3 linked regions of the Homo sapiens genome follow. The protein of the gene in region 3 purifies or fractionates together with the protein of the main gene of each other region. This does not show direct contact. Each region holds a gene or a part of one and is shown on either strand. Other genes may lie near its edges.

Region 1 (7,040 bases), on a different chromosome or scaffold from region 3:
GACGGGGTTTCACCGGGTTGTCCAGGCTGGTTGCGAACTCCTGAGCTCAGGCAGTCCGCCCACCTCGGCCTCCCAAAGTGCTGGGATTACAGGTGTGAGCCACCGCGCTCAGCCTTACTTATTTTTTTAGAGACAGGGTCTTGCTCTTCATCAGGCTGGAGTGCAGTGGCGTGGTTATTGCTCACTGCAGTCTCAAACTCCTGCTGTTATTGGTTCAAGTGATCTTCCTGCCTCAGTCTCCTGAGTAGCTGGATCCACAGGCGGATGACGCTACACTCAGCTAATTTTTTTTTTTTTCCTAATTTTTCATAGATACTTCGCTTTGTTGCCCAGGCTGGTCTCGAACTCCTGAGCTCAAGCGATCATCCTGCTTCCTCCAACTCCCAGAGTTCTGGGATTACACGCGCGAGCCACGATGCCAACCAGGAGACCAGAAATTAAGCTCAGCTTTCTTTCTCTCCCTTCTTCCCTCCCTCCCTCCCTCCTTTCCTTCCTTCCTTCTTTTTTAAAACTTTGTGGTATCTGTTTGTGAATTGCTTATTTTACTTACCATATTGTCTTCAAAGTTCATCCATGTTATAGCCGGTGATGGGATTTCCTTCCTTTTTGAGATTGAATAGTATTCCATTGTATGCCTATGCCACATATGGTTTAATCATTCATCCATTGATGGACACTTGGGTTGCTTCTGACTGTTGGCTGTTGTGAGTAGTACTGCTATGAACACGGGTCTGCAAATATCTCTGAAACTCTGCCTTCTTTTTCTGTTTGTTTGTTTGTTTGTTTAAGGCAGTCTTACTCTGTTGCCCAGGCTTGAATGCAGTGGTGCCATTACAGCTCACTTTATTTTTTATTTTTTTGAGACAGTCTCACTCTTGTTGGCCAGGCTGCAGTGCAGTGGCGTGATTTCAACTCACACTGCAAACTCCACTTCCCGGGTTCAAGCTATTCTCCTGCCTCAGCCTCCTGAGTAACTGGGATTACAGGCATCTGCCACCACACCCAGCTAATTTTGTGTTTTTAGTAGAGACAGGGTTTCTCCGTGGTGGTCAGGCTGGTCTTGAACTCCCGAACTCAGGTGATCCACCTGCCTCGGCCTCCCAAAGTGCTGTGATTACAGGTGTGAGCCACCACGCCCAGCCTGCCCAGCTAATTTTTGTATTTTTAGTAGAGACAGGGTTTTGCCATGTTGGCCAGGCTGGTCTCGAATTCCTGACCTCAGATGATCTGCCTGCCTTGGACTCCCAATGTGCTGGGATTATTGGCGTGAGCCACCGCGCCTGGTGGAGTGGTGGAGTCTTTTTTTTTTTTTTGAGGTGGAGTCTCTGTGGCCCAGGCTGGAGTGCAGTGGCGCCATCTCGGGTCACTGCATCCTCCGCCTCCCAGGTTCAAGCGATTCTCCTCCCTCAGCCTCCTGAGTAGCTGCGGCTACAGGTGTGCGCCACCACACTCGGCTAATTTTTTGTATTTTAGTAGAAACGGAGTTTCATCATGTTTCCCTGGCTGGTCTCCTGAGCTCAGGCAGTCTACCAGCCTCCCAACGTGCTAGGATTACAGGCGTGAGCCACCCCACCCTGCCCAACGACTCACTTAGCTTCAACCTGTCAGACTCAGGCTTCTCCTACCTTAGCCTTCTTAGTATCTGGGACAACAGGTGTGTGCTACCATACCTGGCTAAATTTTTCTTTTTTTGATTTTTTGTAGAGACAGGATAATTTTTTTTTTTTTTTGTATAGACAGGGTCAGGCTATGTTTATGTTGGCCAGGCTGGGAAATAAGGTCTTAATAGAGGAAGTTGAAGATTCCTGGGGGAATAGCATGTAGAGCAGCTATAGAGGGAGAGGGTGCTGATTACTAGCTAAAAGACTTAGAAATTTTTGCAAACATGGACTCATGATAGTTTTTGGGTGATGAGTCTTCTTGTAGGATAGCTTGAAAGAGGAGGAGGAAACTAGAGGCCCTGGTAATATAAGGTAACATTAAGTATCCTGATGTCAGTAATGGAGAAGAGTGAAAGACTATGATTGATTGGGTGACTGTGTGGGCAGAGGATGTGAGGAGAAAAGGACATCTTGTGTGTGTGTGCGCACACATTTTTAGTTGTGTATCTTCTACTTGTTTTCTCCCCCACCTTGTACCTGTACTTTCTCAAGCCCAAAAATGAAAATTTACCTGCTACCAACCACATCATCTTGTGCATCTGTGTAGCTCAGTTTTTATTTCTTTAGATCTGTGGTCCTCCGTGGAAAGAGAGCCACTACCCCAAGACACATCTAATATAATACACAGGGCGCTTACGTGGTTAGAAAAGAAGAGATAAGCCGGGTGCGGTGGCTCACTCCTGTAATCCCAGCACTTTGGAAGGCCGAGGCGGGCAGATCACGACGTCAAGAGATTGAGACTATCCTGGCCAACACGGTGAAACCCTGTCTCTATTAAAAATAACAAAAATTAGCTGGATGTGGTGGTGCACACCTGTCATCCCACCTACTTGGGAGGCTGAGGTAGGAGAATCACTTGAACCCAGGAGGCGGAGGTTGCAGTGAGCCAAGATAGTGCCAATGCATCCCAGCCTGGCGATAGAGCAAGACTCATCTCAGGAAAAAAAAAAAAAAGGAGCTTGTTTTGGCCAGGTGCAGTGGCTCACGCCTGTAATCCCAGCACTTTGGGAGGCTGAGGCAGGTGGATCACCTGAGGTCAGGAGTTCGAGACCAGCCTGGCCAACATGGCGAAACCCTGTCTATACTAAAAGTACAAAAATTAGCCGGGCATGGTGGTGGGTGCCTGTAATCACAGCTACTCAAGAGGCTGAGGTGGGAGAATTACTTGAACCTGGGAGGCGGCGGTTGCAGTGAGCTGAGATGGTGCCACTGCACTCCAGCCTGGGCGACAGAGGGAGAATCCATCACAAAATAAATAAATAAAATATATAAATTTTAAAAAGTAGCTTGTTCTTAGTTTAATATTCTTTTTGAGTTCTAAAACGCTAATTTGAAAACATGTCTATTGATGATATTTGAGCAACCGTATCCATATTAAGCCTTAATATGAGAGGAATTATCTTCTGTGTTAATTTTTTTTTTTGAGACGAACTCTTGCTCTGTCACGCAGGCTAGAGTGTAGTGGCGTGCTCACTGCAACCTCCACCTCCTGGGTTCAAGCAGTTCTCCTGACTCAGCCTCCCAAGTAGCTGAGACTACAGGCGCCCGCTATCGCTCCCAGCTAATTTTTGTATTTTTAGTAGAGAAGAGTTTCGCCATGTTGGCCAGGCTGGTTGTGAACTCCTGACCTAGTGAGCCACCTGCCTCGGCCTCCCAAAGTGCTGGGATTACAGGCGTGAGCCACGGCGCCCGGCCATCTCTGTTATTTCATTGTAATGTTTTAACGGGTACCCCCTGTAAATTAGTGTATGAAAGGGCTTTTGTCTGTTGTAAAGCACTTTACAAATGCAAAAGTTTGTTGGAAATTGTATTTGAATGCCCCACATCTGTGTAACCAATCCTCTCTATATGAGGATGTTGTGTATGTTTCAGTTTTATTTTGAAATTTTCCAGAAATGGAATCTTTTAACTGATTTTAGGGAAACCCTTTAATCTCTCTAGGCTGCCTTTCTTTATCTATGAAATGAAATAGTAAGTTCTTTTTAGCTCTGCGATTTAAAAGCTTTAATTTTAAATGAGAGAGTGGTTAGTGATCTTCATGAAGTTTGATAGGTGGCAATACATTTAACTGATTTTGCTCTTTATGTGTAGATCATGGAAGGGAAGTGGTTGCTGTGTATGTTACTGGTGCTTGGAACTGCTATTGTTGAGGCTCATGATGGACATGATGATGATGTGATTGATATTGAGGATGACCTTGACGATGTCATTGAAGAGGTAGAAGACTCAAAACCAGATACCACTGCTCCTCCTTCATCTCCCAAGGTTTGAAATGGTCTTTGAATCTATTCCTTTTACGTCTTGAGATGATAAAATTATGAAGATACCCGGGTGCAGGGAAATGTAGTCTCAACTACTCAGGAGGCCTAGGACAGGAGTGTGAGTCCAGCCTTGGCAACACAGGGAGATATCATCTCTAATAAAATATAAAAGAAAAACATGGTGAAGATAAATTTGGAACGTTTTCAAAGGGAAAGCAAAATTCGTGAAAATACTTATTGATCTCTCTGGCAGCCTTTGTCTTGCTAGAGGCCAATTATATGGGTTGAATTTGAAGGCCAGCTATGAAATTTTTGTGACAGTTGAAAGCAAACCAGGAGAATAGATTCTAGATAAAAAGGCATGTTGCTGAAAATTTAAATTTTTAATTCATTTATGTATTTAACACAGGTTACTTACAAAGCTCCAGTTCCAACAGGGGAAGTATATTTTGCTGATTCTTTTGACAGAGGAACTCTGTCAGGGTAAGTGTTTTCCAGAGAAATATATGTTAGAGGCAGACATGTAAATAAGATGGGATAGTAGATTCCTTTTTGGATAGCATCTTTTATAGTGAAATGTCTAACTTTATTTTATTTTATTTATTTATTTTTTGAGACAGAATTTCGCTCTTTTGCCTGGGCTGGAGTGCAATGGCGTGATACCGGCTCATTGCCACCTCCGTCTCCTGGGTTCAAGTGATTCTCCTGCCTCAGCTTCCCAAGTAGCTGGGATTATAGGCATGCGCCACCATGCTGGCTAATTTGTGTGTGTGTGTTGTTATTTTTTTAGTAGAGATGGGGTTTTGACATGTTGGCCAGGCTGGTCTTGAACTCCTGACCTCAGGTGGTCCACTTGCCTTAGCCTCCCAAATTGTTGGCATTACAGGCATGAGCCACCGCACCTGGCCTGAAATTTCTAGCTTTAATATCTTCAGTGTTAACATCCATGCAGGAAAATAGTCTTTTGGAATTTGTGGTTTTTACTTCCACTTCTTTCCCTCCCCCACTCTACCCTATATTTTGTTCTTTGATTGAGGAAAAAAATTTTCTCTTGATGTTAAAACATCAGTGGAATTATCTCATAGGTTTGGTACTTTTTCATATAGGTTTGTGAGTTGAAGATAATGTATTATCATTAGTTGTGTGACAGATTTAAAGGTTGGAAGTAGAGTGGTTAAATAGGCTAAGAGCAGAATAGGTCCTACTTTAATGAGTATTTACATAATTTTCCCTCACAAGTCAACTGTCATTTTAAGACTGATTTTGGGATTTGTTATTTACAGGTGGATTTTATCCAAAGCCAAGAAAGACGATACCGATGATGAAATTGCCAAATATGATGGTGAGAATCCCATTTGGTTTAGATATAATAGCAGATAGAGGTTTGACATGTTGTCTCCATGGCATTTCCTAAGACTAGTTTAAAAGGACATAGTAGGCTTTAAGATTTTTCCAGCCAGGTGCGGTGGCTCACGCCTGTAATCCCAGCACTTTCGGAAGCCAAGGCGGGCAGATCACGAGGTCAGGAGATCGAGACCATCCTGGCTAACACAGTGAAACCCCGTCTCTACTGAAAATACAAAAAATTAGCTGGGCGTGGCAGCGTGCATCTGTAGTCCCAGCTGCTGGGGAGGCTGAGGCAGGAGAATGGTGTGAACCCGGGAGGCCAAGCTTGCAGTGAGCCGAGAACGCGCCACTGCACTCCAGCCTGGGTGACAGAGCGAGACTCCGTCTCAAAAAAAAAAAAAAAAAAAAGATTTTTCCATGGAAGTTTTGCCACCTTTGTGTGTTGCCTAATTTTTTTTTTTTTTTTTTTTTTATTTAAGGTTCAGGGGTGCATGTGTAGCCTTATATTTAATAGGATTAGATCTGTTTAATCACCTGTGCTACTGAATGTTGGAAATTTCTAGACAGTAGTATAATACACTACAGTTTTAAAAAGCCATATCTGAATAATATTTGCCAAATAAAGTGTGTTTATTTATTATTTATTTACTTTTTTGAGACGGAGTCTCATTCTTGCCACCCAGGCTTCTGGAATAGAGTGGCGTGATCTTGGCTCACCGCAACCTCTGTTTCTTGGGTTCAAGCGATTCTCCTGCCTCAGCCTACCGAGTAGTTGGGATTACAGGTGCCCATCACCACGCCCGGCTAATTTTTGTGTTTTTATTAGAGATGGGGTTTCACCATGTTGGCCAGGCTGGTCTCGAACTCCTGACCTTGAGTGATCCGCCTGCCCTCAGCCTCCCTAAGTGCTGGGATTATAGGTGTGAGCGACCACGGCTGCCCCAGTATAATATATTTATGCAACTAGGAGGTGTTTTTTTTGGCATTTAAAGGACCTTCAGAGGTAGAGTTAAGCAGTGGAACTTTTTTGTGTTGTCTTGTAGGAAAGTGGGAGGTAGAGGAAATGAAGGAGTCAAAGCTTCCAGGTGATAAAGGACTTGTGTTGATGTCTCGGGCCAAGCATCATGCCATCTCTGCTAAACTGAACAAGCCCTTCCTGTTTGACACCAAGCCTCTCATTGTTCAGTAAGTGAAATGCTTGTTGGATAAAAGCTTTCTGCAAAGGGTAATCTTAGAAGACATTATGTAACTTTTACTCTATGTTAAAAAATTATGAGATTATATAAGTGGTGGTAGGGATTTTTGGGTGAATTTAAACACCTTGTAATTAATAGTTTTTCCTGGCTAATGCATTATTTTGAAAGAAACTGGTTACTTATTTTCCTGACTCTAAATAACTTGTAGATTTTGCAGAACAAATTTACCGGAAATCTGCATTAATAGTTTTTGTAATTAATTAATTACAAAACTAGTAATTAATAGTTTTTCCTGCCTAATGCATTATTTTGAAAGAAACTGGTTACTCATTTTCCTGACTCTAAATAACTTGTAGATTTTGCAGAACAAATTTACTGGAAATCTGCATTAATGTTCAATTTAATTTTATTTATTTTTGTGGCATTTGATAACTATTCAAAAACAATAGAAGATGGAATCCTTTGTAAGGGTAAACATTTGACCTATGATAAAACGTGACTAAGATGAGGGAGAGAGGAAATACATTAAGAGAGTTTCGATCTTTCAAAATGCCATACAGTTTTCTGCTTTTCTC
Region 2 (7,040 bases), on a different chromosome or scaffold from region 3:
AAAATCAAGTCTTCTTACAAGAGGGAGTGTATAAACCTTGGTTGTGATGTTGACTTTGATTTTGCTGGACCTGCAATCCATGGTTCAGCTGTCTTTGGTTATGAGGGCTGGCTTGCTGGCTACCAGATGACCTTTGACAGTGCCAAATCAAAGCTGACAAGGAATAACTTTGCAGTGGGCTACAGGACTGGGGACTTCCAGCTACACACTAATGTGTAAGTATTTCTTTCATAGGATACTGTGATGTGGGCCCTCAGAGGATGATTTTGATGTCTGTCATCTTATTGATCTGGGTGCACCCTAAAGGATTTCTCATAACATTTAAAAACAAAATCATTCTTGGTCATTTCTAGGGTGCCCCTTGAAAGTTTATAGTAGAAGACTGTTAGTCTGACCTTTGGTGCTGAGAGAGTAAATGTTCATTTTATATGGGGTTTAATGTGCTTTGTATTTTTACAAGAGGCATTATATATTGGCAGACTGCTACCAGTACATTCATTTTACTTAATTATTTTGATGTGTGAGATGCTGACTTGATAGGATTGCCTAAAATGTATGGTGTTTTGTGGTTGGGTTTTTTTTTCTTTTTCTTTTTTCTTTCTTTTTTTGTTTTGGTTCAGACAGAGTCTTGCTCTTTTGCGATCTCGGCTCACTCCAACATCCGCCTCCCGGGTTCAAACAATTCTCCTGCCTCAACCTCCCAAGTAGCTGGGACTACAGGCGTGTGCCACCATGCCTGGCTAATTTTTGTATTTTTGGTAGAGACGGGGTTTCACCATGCTGGCAAGGCTGGTCTGGAACTCCTGACCTCGTGATCTGCCAAAGTGCTGGGATTACAGGCGTGAGCCACTGTGCCCGGCTATTGTTGTTTTTTTGTTTGTTTGTTTTTAATTATTTTTGTAGAGATGGGGTCTTGCTATGTTGCCCAGGCTTGTCTCAAACTCCTGGCCTCAAGCGATCCTCCCGCCTCAGCCTTCCAAAGTGTTGGGATTATAGGCGTGAGCCACTGCATCCAGCCTGGTGTTTTTACCTAGCCCAAACTAGATAGATACATAGAAAGTACTTAAAATGTTTTTCTTTCCATTGTAAAAATTCATTGGTAAATAACAGAAGCACAAAGAAGAAAACCTACGTTTCTTACAATCATGCCAGCTAGGTATATAATCTTTGTTAATGTTGTGGTTCACCTTTTTATATGTGTGTGTATATATACTTATATATAAAATACGTAACCAAAAGGCTGTTTGAGAACCTCTTGCATGTTTAATACAGTGTGATAATTCCACTGAATGGATATTCTGTGGTTCATTTTACCAATCCCTGTATGGGTATGGGTTGGGGAAAAAAACCTGTTAAAACTTGCAAGTTTTCAGTGGAACACTAAAGACCCACTTGAGCTGTGGTTTTTTATTTAAATGTAATGCTACAAATCAGCCTGTGCCTTAGACATTATTACATTGTCTATTCTAGATCTACTAATTTAAAATATCTTATAGCAATGATGGGACAGAATTTGGAGGATCAATTTATCAGAAAGTTTGTGAAGATCTTGACACTTCAGTAAACCTTGCTTGGACATCAGGTACCAACTGCACTCGTTTTGGCATTGCAGCTAAATATCAGTTGGATCCCACTGCTTCCATTTCTGTGAGTACTTTTGTGGACTTAGAATGGGGGTTTTGGTTGTGGGAATGAGTCTTTGGGTATACTGAATTATGTTGAAAATTTGAACTGATTTCACACAGTCCCCAGTTTACAGATAGATTAGTTTTAGATTTTGAAATGCGCTTTTTTGATGGATACAGTGTTAGACGTTTTATTTCCAGGCCAGGCTGGTGGAGTTTGTTTAACCTCAAAAGCTGCCGAGTTAATGTTGATGATAACCTTGAGCCATAGGCCTGTCTAAGTCCAGGTATAGCTGGTGTTTGGTCCCTGAGTGGTTCTTACTGTGTCAGAAATAATAGTGCTTTTTTAAGGCTCTCTGTTGTCGAGGCTGGACTGCAGTGGCACAATCACGACTCCCGGCACCTTGACATCCTGGGTTCAACCTCAGCCTCCTACTATTCCCAACTAATTTTTTGATGTTTTTTTGTAGAGATGGGATCTCCATATGTTGCCCATCCTAGGCTCAAGCTATCATCCTGTCTCAGCCTCCCAAAGGAGGCTGTTGGGATTATAGGCATGAGCCACTGCACCTGGCTAGTATTTTAATCATCACTTTGTCTTTTTTTTTTTTTTTTCTTTTTTGAGATGGAGTCTCTGTCGCCCGGGCTGGGGTGCAGTAGTGCGATCTTGGCTCACTGCAACCTCCGCCTCCTGGGTTCAAGCAGCTCTTCTGCCTCAGCCTCCTGAGTAGCTGAGATTACAGGTGCCCGCCACCACACCTGGCTAATTTTTTTGTATTTTTTAGTAAAGATGGGATTTGTTGGCCAGACTGGTCTCAAACTCCTGACCCCAAGTGATCCACCCGCCTCAGCCTCCCAAAGTGCTGGGATTACAGGCATGAGACACCACAGCTGGCCGCCTTCTCCATTTCTAATTGCACTACAGCAATAAAAACCTCAAGATTCATACAGTACACTATTCTGTTACTTACATTGATGTTCTTGGATGTCTGTGGCATTTTAACAGATTTAATGTAAGTGGAAGAAGCTTCTCTCAGCTACTAGGAGTTCATAGTTAAAATGGGAAGGCAGCTTGGGACCCCTGTGTCATTTAATGACTCCTGGGAATTAGTTTGGAAATGTACCTAGCCTTTCCCACTTCAGTAATGTTAGCTGCCACTCCAATTCAGCAGTACCCAGAAGCATTGCTTAATGCTCCTTGTGATATTAGGAAGTATATATTTGGTTCTCCTTCCCTCTCCTGGCATAGAACTCCTAAAAAATCCTTGGAATCCCGAAAGTATTAAGTATCTTTTTGTATGCTAATGAGTTTTGACTGGTGGCTGGCCACCTTTAGGTAGCTTCGGGCTGGAGGCTAGTCAGTGGAGAGACCAAGGTGTGATTAGAGGGGGTGGGGAGAGGGGCTGTAGGTTTAATTGTTCACCAATGGCTAGTGGTTTAATCAGTCATGCCTGTATAATGAAGCCTCATGAAAACCCACAAGGACAGAGGTCAGTGAGCTAGGTAGCTGAGGTTACTGGAAGGTGGCATGTCTGGAGAGGGCATTGAAGCTGTGTCCCTTCCTATGTTTTGCACTGTACATCTCTTCATCTGTATCCTTTGTAATATCCTTTATTAAAACTGGTAAATGTAAATAAAGTGTTTCTTGAGTTCTGTGACCTGCTCTAGGAGATTAATTGAACCCAAGAAGGGGCTTGTGGGAACCTCTGTTTAGAGGTGCCAGGTCAGAAGCAGAGTTAAAACAACCTGGGGCTTGCAGTTGGCATCTGAAGTGGGAGGAGGGCAGTCTTGTGGGACTAAGCCCTTAACCTGTGGCATCTGATGTCTCCAGGTAGAATTAGAGGACATTTAGCCAGTGTCTGCTGCAGAAATTATTGCTTGCTTGGTGTGTGAGGAAAGCCCTCACACATGTGGTCACAGAAGCATTCTGTGTTGTGAGAGAATAGTAGGAGAAACTGAGTTGGTTTTTTTCTGTATCCTCAGAATTGATGTCAGGATTGGGATTTGCTAGAGTGGCTCTAGCTAGAGTGGCTCATCGAAGCATGGTTTAGGAAGAAAAAGGATAAATGGATGGGAAATGAGGAACTTTTGACTCCTGGGTGGTCAGATGGTCACCCCTGCTATGGAGCCACAACTGTGCTGTGCTCAGGTACTTAAAAATTACCAGTGGAATTCAAAGATAGATCCAACTCCAAGGGAGTTGGTTCACTGGGTGCATAAGGAAACGCAAACAATAAGAAACAAACAAAATATACAATCCCTTGATTATTGTTATTTGTGATAGCTAAAATCAAAGTGAAAGAGTGCTGGATTGTACCTTGATGCTAGACCAAGCTCAGGTTTCATTTGGTTTAAGCCTTGGCCACCAGCCTCAAAGCCACCTTGCAAGGGTAAAAAGTACCCCTAAGACCTGTATTTGCTGTATTTTGCCCAGTTTGGAGAAATTTAAAAAGTCAGAAGTTAGAGATTACATTGAGAAATGTGATCTGAAATTGCCTGGGGCAGTAGTCAGGCTTATTAATCAAGATAAAGGCTGACAAATGGGGAAGGGTAGATTTCTGTTGGAAAGGCAAAGCAAATATCTCTAATTCTTACTGATCTGTAACGAAACTGATTTTTTTTGTACCATGCTCATACTGCCATATGGTAATATTGTTGGCAGATTAAACTCCCTTGTGTAAATAAGTCTTATAATACTGATTGATGATTATATGTATTGTGAAATTGAGTTGAAGCCTCCTCAGGATATAATACCTATGGAAAGTGACTGGCCTGAGGAGGAACTGGATCTCACTATCAGCTGATTTCCATCCTGAATAGTTCTGCACAAGGTACAAATAACAGTAGATCAAGGGAAAAGAAAGCTGGTACAAGATGATAAAGATGTTTCTAATGGCTTCTGTCAACCTAAAGGAAGAAACTAAGGCACAAAATACAATTTTAAAGAATTTATTTGCACCATAATGAGGACAGCTGCCCAGCAGACTCAGATCCAAGTGGATTTGAGCTCCATTTGGCCCTTGTTACAAACAGGTTTTTAAAGGCCAAAAATTCGGGACAGGATGTGGGCTGATACAAAGTTGTTTGGCAGGAATTCTCTTTGGTTTACAGAAATAACATTGATTAGTGATTGGCTATACATTGTTCTTTGTATCACAGATTCCAGGAACATGAAGATAATGGGTGAGGGTCACATTGTGCAGTAACACTTTAGATATTTGCCAGCGAGCCTGGAAACTACAAGGAAGGAAAAAAAGAACAAAGTGTTTTTAAACAATTTCCCCTAGGCATGGGGGTGTGTCCTGTGACTAAAGTCTCATTCTCATGTCTCTCTGGGCCTGATAAACTTTGCATACCTCACATTCCTCATACTGCTGAGCTATTTTTTTTTCTCTTCATAGGACCGAGTAGGTTTTTTTTGTTTTGTTTTGTTTTGTTTTGAGACGGAGTCATCCAGGCTGGAGTGCAGTGGCGTGATCTCGGCTCACTGCAACCTCCACCTCCTGGGTTCAAGCCATTCTTGTGCCTCAGTCTCCTGAGTAGCTGGGATTATAGGTGCCCACTACCACACTCGGCTAATTTTTGTATTTTTAGTAGAGATGAGGTTTCGCCGTGTTGGCCAGGCTGGTCTCAAACTCCTGACCTCTGGTAATCCGCCCGCCTCAGCCTCCCAAAGTGCTGAGATTACAGGTGTGAGCCACTGCGCCCATCCTAGTTGCTTCTTTAAACCTATCCCTATCCCACAGTAGCTTCTCCAGATGATAGGCATATTTGTGTTTGTACTCTTGTAGATATGTCTGTTATATAAATGCAACAAGTGTAAACATCCTTGACAGATATATGGACCTTTTTGCTGTAAGGGATCCCTGTTTGAAACCAGGGGGTGGCCTATGATACTATGGTGTATATATTTTGGTTTTTGTCAAGTTCCTGGCTCACAGCTTCTATAACCCTTGCAATTTCCCAAGTGACTAGAGCCGTAAGAGTGTATTTTGTTGAGATATTTGGCCATTTGTCCTCGGTTCCTGAAACAGCTCCAGAGCATAAAAGTGAAAGACAGTCTTTTGTGGGTTTTTTTTTTTTTTTTTTTTTTTAATGAAATCTCACTGTCATCCAGGCTGGATGGAGTACAGTGGCACCATCTCTGCTCACTGCAACCTCAACCTCCGCCTCTCGGGTTCAAGCAGTTCTCGTGCCTCAGCCTACTTAGTAGCTGGGTTTGGAGGTGCCTGCCACCAAGCCCGACTAATTTTTGTATTTTTAGTAGAAATGAGGTTTCACCGTGTTGGCCAGGTGGGTCTCCAACCCCTGACCTCAGGTGATCCACTTGCCTTGGCTCCCAAAGTGCCGGGGTAACAGGAACGAGCCACTGCGCCCTGGGCTATGTTGTTATTTTTAACAGGCCTCTTTCAACCACATCTGAACTTATGTTAATGAGGTGATTTTTGGATAGTCCCTAGATGGCCACATGGTAGGGGGTGCTGGTTGCTAGGGAACAAACCTTCTGCCTTGGGGAGGGCATAGTAGCTAAAGGTTGAGCCAGTGGCCAGTGATTTAATTAATCGTGCCTTTGTAATGAAGTCTCCTTTGTAATGAAGTCTCTGTAAAAACCCAAAGGACTGAGTCCAGGGGGCCTTCAGGAAGGTAAACAATAATACATTCATGTCATGGGAGGGTGGGGCACCCCAGCTCCACAGGGATGGAAGCTCCTGTGCTTGGGACCCTTCAAGACCTCACCTATAAAGGAAAAGATATATAAGTATCTTTTCATCTGGCTGTTCATTTATATCCTTTAAAATATCCTATATAACTGGTAAATGTGTTAGTCCCTGAGTTCTGTGTGCCACCCTAGGAAATTACTTGAACCCCAGGGGGTTGTGGGAACCCCAGTTTATAACCAGTCTGTAAGAAGCAGAGGCAAAAGAACCTGGAGCTTTCAGTTAGCATTGAAAATGAGGGCGGGGCAGTTTTATGAAACTGAGCCCTGAACCTGTGTGATCCGATGCTCTCTCTCCAGGTAGATAGTATCAGAATTGAATTAGAGAACATCTAGCTGGAGTCTGCTGCAGAATCGTTTGCTTGATGTGTGGGAAATTCTCCCTAGGCCTTATGAGAGTATAGAGGGAGAAACTGAGTTTATTTTTTCTACTCCTTATCACAGTTTCATGGTTTAACTCTTACTGTTAAATAATAGGAATTTTTTTTTTTTTTTTTTTTTGGAGACAGAGTCTCACTTTGTTACCCTGGCTGGAGTGCAGTGGTGCGATCTCTGCTCTGCTCACTGCAACCTCTGCCACCCGGATTCAAGTGATTCTCCTGCCTTAGCACCCCGAGTAGCTGGGATTACAGGCGCCTGCCACCGTGCCTGGCTAATTTTTGTAGTTTTAGTAGAGACGGGGTTTCACCATCTTGGCC
Region 3 (7,000 bases):
GATGAGAGGATTTTTATGACATGTCATTGTCCTTTCTTCCTAGTGGATGCTGGGCACAGAGCTGTCATCTTTGACCGATTCCGTGGAGTGCAGGACATTGTGGTAGGGGAAGGGACTCATTTTCTCATCCCGTGGGTACAGAAACCAATTATCTTTGACTGCCGTTCTCGACCACGTAATGTGCCAGTCATCACTGGTAGCAAAGGTGAGTCTTGCCTATGGTTCAGGTAAAGTAGGGAGTGTGGAAGAGGTGCTCTGTTCTTCTGTGTCACAGGAGCATCTGTGGGATACCAGGATCCAAAAGAGTTTGAACTGTACATCATAGGAATGACTAGACTACTTGCCCTGGAGAGCTTGATATGGAATCTTAGAAATACCCACTTATGGCTGGGTGCGGTGGTTCATGCCTGTAATCCCAGCACTTTGGGAGGCTGAGGCAGGTGGATCACCTGAGGTCAGGAGTTCAAGACCAGCCTGGCCAATGTGGTGAAACCCCATCTCTCCTAAAAATACAAAAATTAGCCGGTGGTGGGGGGTGCCTGTAATCCCAGCTACTTGAGAGGCTGAGGCAGGAGAATTGCTTGAGCCTGGGGGGCGGAGGTTGCAGTGAGCTAAGATTGTGCCACTTCACTGCAGCCTGGGCAACAGAGTGAGACTCTGTCTCAAAAAAAAAAAAAAAAAAAGCCTGCTTCTAATCTTCCCATCTCTTTGGAATTTCTTTCCGTACTGTTTTGCAGTTGTTTTCAGGATACATTATGTACCTATTTCTAAAACTATTGATAGGAGCTTCCAGAGATCAGGGAGTTGTAGGTATTAATACATTGCCCACCTCTCTTGGTGCCCAGTTCAGGGCTGTCTCATGGGCGCTTGGTCCATATTGTTGACATCTGTAAGCAAGCCGTGACAGTGCTTTGGCTCCAGGCAGGCCTGAATTGTCCAGGGGAAAGTATAATTCTCTCCCTGGATCCTTTAAATGGTCCAAGTAATGAGAAGCAGAACATAGGATCAGTCTGTTAACCCCTTATATGTGTTACACATTTGACAGAGTGCTTTTACGTCTGTTTTCTCCTTCAATTTTCCCCAACATTTCCGCAAGGCCCAGAAAGCAAATGAAATTGTCCCCATTCTCATAGACAGGGAAATAAGCTCAGGTTGGCTAAGGCTTAGAGAGGCCACATCATTAGTAAATAGCCCAGATCTTTGGACTGATAGTCTAACACCGTTTCCACCAGACCCGAACTAACCTCTCCAAGGCTGACTCCTGACTTGGCCACAATCACCAGAGCATGTAAAGGCCTCACCCTACAATTCTTAGCATTGCCCTGTCTATTGTCTTAAAATGTTCAGTGTTGCAAACTTTGCATGGCACCTGTTAGACATATAATCTGAATTATGTATATCTGAGGGCATTCAGGGGATACCAAAAAGCTGCTATCACTGAAGCCTCTTAAGAAATTATAAACTCTTTATGATGCTCTATTGGGTTCTCTGCCAAGGAAACCAGGCATACCTGCACCTTGCCCTCTGGGATCTTATAATCAGCAGATTTGCTTATAAATTGTAGCAAATTTGGAGCCAGGCACAGTGGTGCGTGTCAGCTACTCAAGAGGCTGAGGCAGGAGAAATGCTTAAGCTCAGGAGCTTGAGTCTAGCCTGGGCCACATAGCAAGACCTTGTCTCTAAAAATAAAAAATAAAAATTGCCAGGCGTAATGGCTCACACCTGTAATTCTAGCATTTTGGGAGGCTGAGGCAGTTGGATCACTTGAGCCCAGGAGTTTGAGACCAGCCTGGGAAATATGGCGAAACCCCAGCTCTACAAAAAGTACAGAGATTAGCTGGGCGTGGTGGTCTGTGCCTGTGTAGTCCCAGCTACTTGGAAGGTGTAGGTGGGAGGATCAACTGAGCCCAGGAGGTCAAAGCGGCTACAGTGAGCTGTGATCTTACCACTGCACTTCAGCCTGGGCAACATGTGACCCTGTCTCAAAATACATAAATAAAAATTGTAGCAAATTGGAGTAGGAGAGGTCATATAAAAGACCACTTGTGGCCAGGTGCGGTGGCTCACACCTGTAATCCCAGCACTTTGGGAGGCTGAGGCAGGTAGATCACCTGAGGTCAGGAGTTTGAGACCAGCCTAACATGGTGACACCCTGTCTCTACTAAAAATACAAAACAGCTGGGTGTGGCGGCGCGTGCCTGTAATCCCAGCTACTCAGGAGGCTGAGGCAGGAGAATTGCTTGAATCTGGGAGGCAGAGGTTGTAGTGAGCCGAGATTGTCCCATTGTACTCCAGCCTAGGCAACAAGAGCAAAAACCTGTCTCAAAAAAAAAAAAAAACAAAAAAAAAACACTTGTTTTCCTACAGTGGTTTTTATTTTTAACTCCAGTGTTTGTCCCCTACCCTAAGATTTACAGAATGTCAACATCACACTGCGCATCCTCTTCCGGCCTGTCGCCAGCCAGCTTCCTCGCATCTTCACCAGCATCGGAGAGGACTATGATGAGCGTGTGCTGCCGTCCATCACAACTGAGATCCTCAAGTCAGTGGTGGTGAGTGAACAGGGGCCTTTAGCCTCGAGCCCAGAGCACCACCCTGGGAGGGTGCCAGGTGGCAGGAAGCGCTTGGCAGTGGGTTGGTTGGGATGTGGCTGCTAGTTTCCTGGTTCCTTTTCTGCTTCCTCATTAACCTGACCTGCCCTTCTGCTCCTCCCTTTGAAACCAGGCTCGCTTTGATGCTGGAGAACTAATCACCCAGAGAGAGCTGGTCTCCAGGCAGGTGAGCGACGACCTTACAGAGCGAGCCGCCACCTTTGGGCTCATCCTGGATGACGTGTCCTTGGTAAGATCCTTCGGGAGACCGAGGAGGGGAAGGGGCTGCAGTTCTCGTTTAGGTGCCTGGCTCCATTTCTGGGTAGACGCTATTAGGTCCTCCCTTCTGCTTTGCTAGATGTGAGACTTGAAAACACGGAAACATGCTGAGGTGAGGCAGTCTCCGTGGGTTTTTCAGTTGAGGGTTCTTTTACCTTCCCCCTGCCACACACATTTTTCTTATGACCTCTGGTTGTATCCAGATAGTCTCTAACCACTAAATGTTTTACCTTCTCCAAACTGTTACCCAGAGAGTGATGCCTTGTTAACCCTGTTTGACACAGGCAGAAACTGCCTGGTAGAGACCAGAGAACAGCTCGGGTAGTCCTTCTCCCTAGCACAGACCTCCCAGCCTGACTCCTGGGAGCTTCCTAACACTTTACAGTCCGAAGCTCAGTGAAGTAAGCTCTGGGAACCCCAGTGAAAGGTGATAGAGTGTAAACGAACGGTTGGATTCCCCCAGGCCTGGTATAGGGGGCAAGGGACATCTCTGAGGCGTAAGCTATCCTCTTGAGACACTATAGCTTGTGTGTTTATATGACATTGGATGTCATAACTCAGAAAGCAATGCAGGCAGGATAGCGTTTCAGGTTGAGGAGGGTGAGGGGAAGGGGTCGTGTTTCTAGATTCTCTGGGAAAAACCATTTGGAGTGATTTGTTCGGGCAGTGAGGTAAAGTGTTTCCTGTTCAGTTCTCCCGTGCATTGCTAGGGAAAGGCACTGCCTCCCCCGGCATCTGTGCAGCTGTTTAAACAGCCACTTGACAACACCCAGTGCTAACCCCTGGGCACTGCTCCACCTTGCTCCGCCTGCTGGAAGTCCTGGGGGCTTGGGGCTCCCTCTGCTGGCAAGAGGCCAGGCTGCAGCCATTCTGTGGGCCCTTCCCTCGTAATTACCGTTAACCTGAACACCTTGGCTGTGAGAAAACGCTGAGTAAAAACCTAAGGGAAAAGTTGGCATTTTACTAGACTTTAACCACATACTCCATTCTGGGGAAATGTGGGCTGACCACAAGAAACCCTATCTAAGGTGTGAGAAGAAAATTAGGTTTCATGGGGAATTTGCTGCCCTCAGCTGGCCCTTGTAGAAATAAATTTTATTCCTTAATTATACATTTCATTTTTCATGTCTCAGGATCAGATTTTCTTACCCAAACTTTGACTAAGAAACTAGAAATGGATCAGGCGAAGTACAACAGCTGCAGTTAGAGTTAGGAGGTTAAAAATTCTGGAAGAGAATGAGACCAGGATTTACTCTTCAGGAGAAGTTTGGAGCTGCTTTTTTAAAAAGCAGAGGTTGGGAGAGTGGAGGAAATGAAACAACTAGAATTTGATGGCAAAACCAATGCTCTTCTCTTGATTCTTTTTCAATAAAAATTAGGATGAATAAGTAAATTGCTCTAGGCTGGGCATTAGGAATTCTGAGGTCCCTTCCCATTGTTTGTGCTATCTTTAGGGACAGTCCCGTCAGACCTGACATGATTAGGGAAGGTCTATGGATCATCAGACTTCTAAACCCTCATGCCGACCAATGACTTTACCTGCTTTCTCTTTCTTTTAAACCGTTTAACAGAACCATTCACATTGGGAATACCATGATTTGCGTTCCACCGTCCCTCGTCCTCTTCCTGTTCAGTGGTGGAGCTGCTGTGGGAAGACGCGGACTGGTTAATCCATAAACAGAGAGCATCAGGCTCTTGGATCCCTGGGAACCAGCTGCCTCCCTCACTCTCAGGGACCCTGTTTTCCATCTGGCCTTCCTTGGGCTTTGAACAAGGCATCAAAGGCCCTTGGAAGAGCACTAGTCAGTGGCGGGGGTCTTAGAACCCACAGTTCTCCTCCTCTGGGGAGGTGGTCGATTGAGTAGATACCTTCTGGTGCCTGTGGGCCCCATCAAAAGCCCCCGGTGCCATTTGCTACATGAGGTCACTGTACTGAGAGTGACAGAGTAATATACAGGAGCAGTTTGGGCAGCCAGAGAGTCTGGGTGTAAACTCAGTTTGGATACAGATACGGAGGTGGAAGAGTGTTCTGGCCTCACGGATGCCTCCAGCTGCTAGAGCCATTGCTGGCCTCTTCTTCCAGCGGCCATGGAGCCCTCCCAGCAGTGCTGTCGAAGCAATCACACTGCCTCATCTTGTGCTCACTCTCTCCCCTTAGACACATCTGACCTTCGGGAAGGAGTTCACAGAAGCGGTGGAAGCCAAACAGGTGGCTCAGCAGGAAGCAGAGAGGGCCAGATTTGTGGTGGAAAAGGTGAGCCTTCGACCAGATGGCAGGAGCCTCTCTCTCCCCTTTCTCCGGCACTCAGCTTCCCCATTTGCTGGGTGGCCTGGAAATTCATCATCTGTCATCCCTTCTTCCGGGATAATCAGAAGGGGCTTGAAGGAATTGTACTTCTGCAATTGGTTCCAGAGTCTTCAGGGGCTAGTCAAGGATATGTGGAGTTATGTTCCTAAATCACTGAAGGGTAATTTTTCTTCCACTTCTCTGAGATCAAAAACACTCTCTTACAAATAAAAATGTTTCTCCTGGAGTATTTTCAGCTTCACTGAGAAGTCATTTTTAACCATAGTTACATAGTGAAAGCTGACAGCAAAAAAGATCAAACGTTGCACCAGATGTGCTTTCGTCACTAGATTTTTTTCTAGTGCTAAATCCATCCAGATGTGTCAAAGAATGTGATGGGACACAGTGTATTTGCGTAGCAGCCTGGTCTTTCTGGTATTTGCAAAGACATGTTCATTTATTGTTGTCCCCTTCTTCCCACCACCAGTATCCCTAATTGGTGGGGAGATGGGGACAGCAAGAAATAAAATGGGAAAAGAGGGATAGATTTAATTTTGGAGAATGAAAACACTGTGTGGGCAGAGACTTGTGTTGCTTTGTATCTGCCATAACTTCAGAGATTATAATAAGTCTAGTACAGTGCCTGGTGATAGTAGGTATACAGTAAATGTTTGTTGAGCAAATAGACGCAGGGCCCAGTCATTTCAAAATTGTATGTAATTTCAGGGAGGCTTAATACTGTCTTCTTCCTCACACTCCTGAAGGTCACACGTTGCAGAGAGCTGTCTTCCTATTGATATTGGTAGGGCAAGCCTAGGAGATCTCACTCTGGGTGCCTGGATTCTGGTCAGGAACCAGCCTAACTCACAGGCAGCTCTAGGAACAGTCAAAAGTGCATGCTGCTCTTCCTTAGCCATCCCGAGGTTTTTTGTTTGTTTGTTTGTTTGTTTGTTTGTTTGTGACAGCTCTGTGGCCCAGGCTGGAGTGCAATGGCATGATCATAGCTCACTGCAGCCTTGGCCTCCTGGGCTCAAGTGATCCTCCTGCCTCCGCCTCCCAAAGTGCCAGGATTACAGGCATGAGCCACCACACCCGGCCCTGTCCTGGCTTTGATGAAGTCCTTTAGACTTAAGGCTGGAGGAAAAGATGAGCCTTGAGGATTGATTCCACCTTTCTTTTGCTTCTGTTTTCCTTGGCCTTGGCTTCTCCTGGCTCAGAGTAGGGTTGTTAAACTAGATTGCAATTAATATTAATGAGGACTTTGAAATAAGACAAATATTCCTGCAGCCAACAGAGATGTATCCCTCCCGTGACAAGGAGTGAGCATGAAAGGATAGGGGAGGACTGGTGGGCAATGTGCTCTGCTTCCCCCCGCTTCCCCCGCTAGCCATCAGGAGGAAGTAAACTCCCCGAGTTCCTTCAGGAGCCTGGGAAGGTGGCTTTCTGGTGAAGGGCCTTTGGTTGTAGCCTGACATGCGGTGCCCTGAGGTTTGATCTTTGTCTCCACCTCCATTCTTTTAGGCTGAGCAACAGAAAAAGGCGGCCATCATCTCTGCTGAGGGCGACTCCAAGGCAGCTGAGCTGATTGCCAACTCACTGGCCACTGCAGGGGATGGCCTGATCGAGCTGCGCAAGCTGGAAGCTGCAGAGGACATCGCGTACCAGCTCTCACGCTCTCGGAACATCACCTACCTGCCAGCGGGGCAGTCCGTGCTCCTCCAGCTGCCCCAGTGAGGGCCCACCCTGCCTGCACCTCCGCGGGCTGACTGGGCCACAGCCCCGATGATTCTTAACACAGCCTTCCTTCTGCTCCCACCCCAGAAATCACTGTGAAATTTCATGA

The links. Proteins that work in one complex are often made in the same cells at the same time.
Region 1: the proteins of PHB1 (region 3) and CANX purify together in Homo sapiens (affinity purification with mass spectrometry; 3 studies listed by BioGRID and IntAct, with this or other methods). This does not show direct contact.
Region 2: the proteins of PHB1 (region 3) and VDAC2 purify together in Homo sapiens (affinity purification with mass spectrometry; 4 studies listed by BioGRID, with this or other methods). This does not show direct contact.

What each region holds. Positions count from the first base shown.
Region 1 is NC_000005.10:179,701,927-179,708,966, forward strand, and holds part of CANX (calnexin isoform d precursor), read left to right. Parts: intron 1-3,752; coding exon of another isoform or gene 3,753-3,755; coding exon 3,756-3,926; intron 3,927-4,331; coding exon 4,332-4,405; intron 4,406-5,205; coding exon 5,206-5,264; intron 5,265-6,312; coding exon 6,313-6,454; intron 6,455-7,040. UniProt on the Homo sapiens protein: Calcium-binding protein that interacts with newly synthesized monoglucosylated glycoproteins in the endoplasmic reticulum. It may act in assisting protein assembly and/or in the retention within the ER of unassembled protein subunits.
Region 2 is NC_000010.11:75,220,756-75,227,795, forward strand, and holds part of VDAC2 (non-selective voltage-gated ion channel VDAC2), read left to right. Parts: coding exon 1-215; intron 216-1,496; coding exon 1,497-1,647; intron 1,648-7,040. UniProt on the Homo sapiens protein: Non-selective voltage-gated ion channel that mediates the transport of anions and cations through the mitochondrion outer membrane and plasma membrane.
Region 3 is NC_000017.11:49,404,883-49,411,882, reverse strand, and holds part of PHB1 (prohibitin 1), read left to right. Parts: intron 1-43; coding exon 44-205; intron 206-2,409; coding exon 2,410-2,552; intron 2,553-2,724; coding exon 2,725-2,841; intron 2,842-5,028; coding exon 5,029-5,124; intron 5,125-6,678; coding exon 6,679-6,891; 3' UTR 6,892-7,000.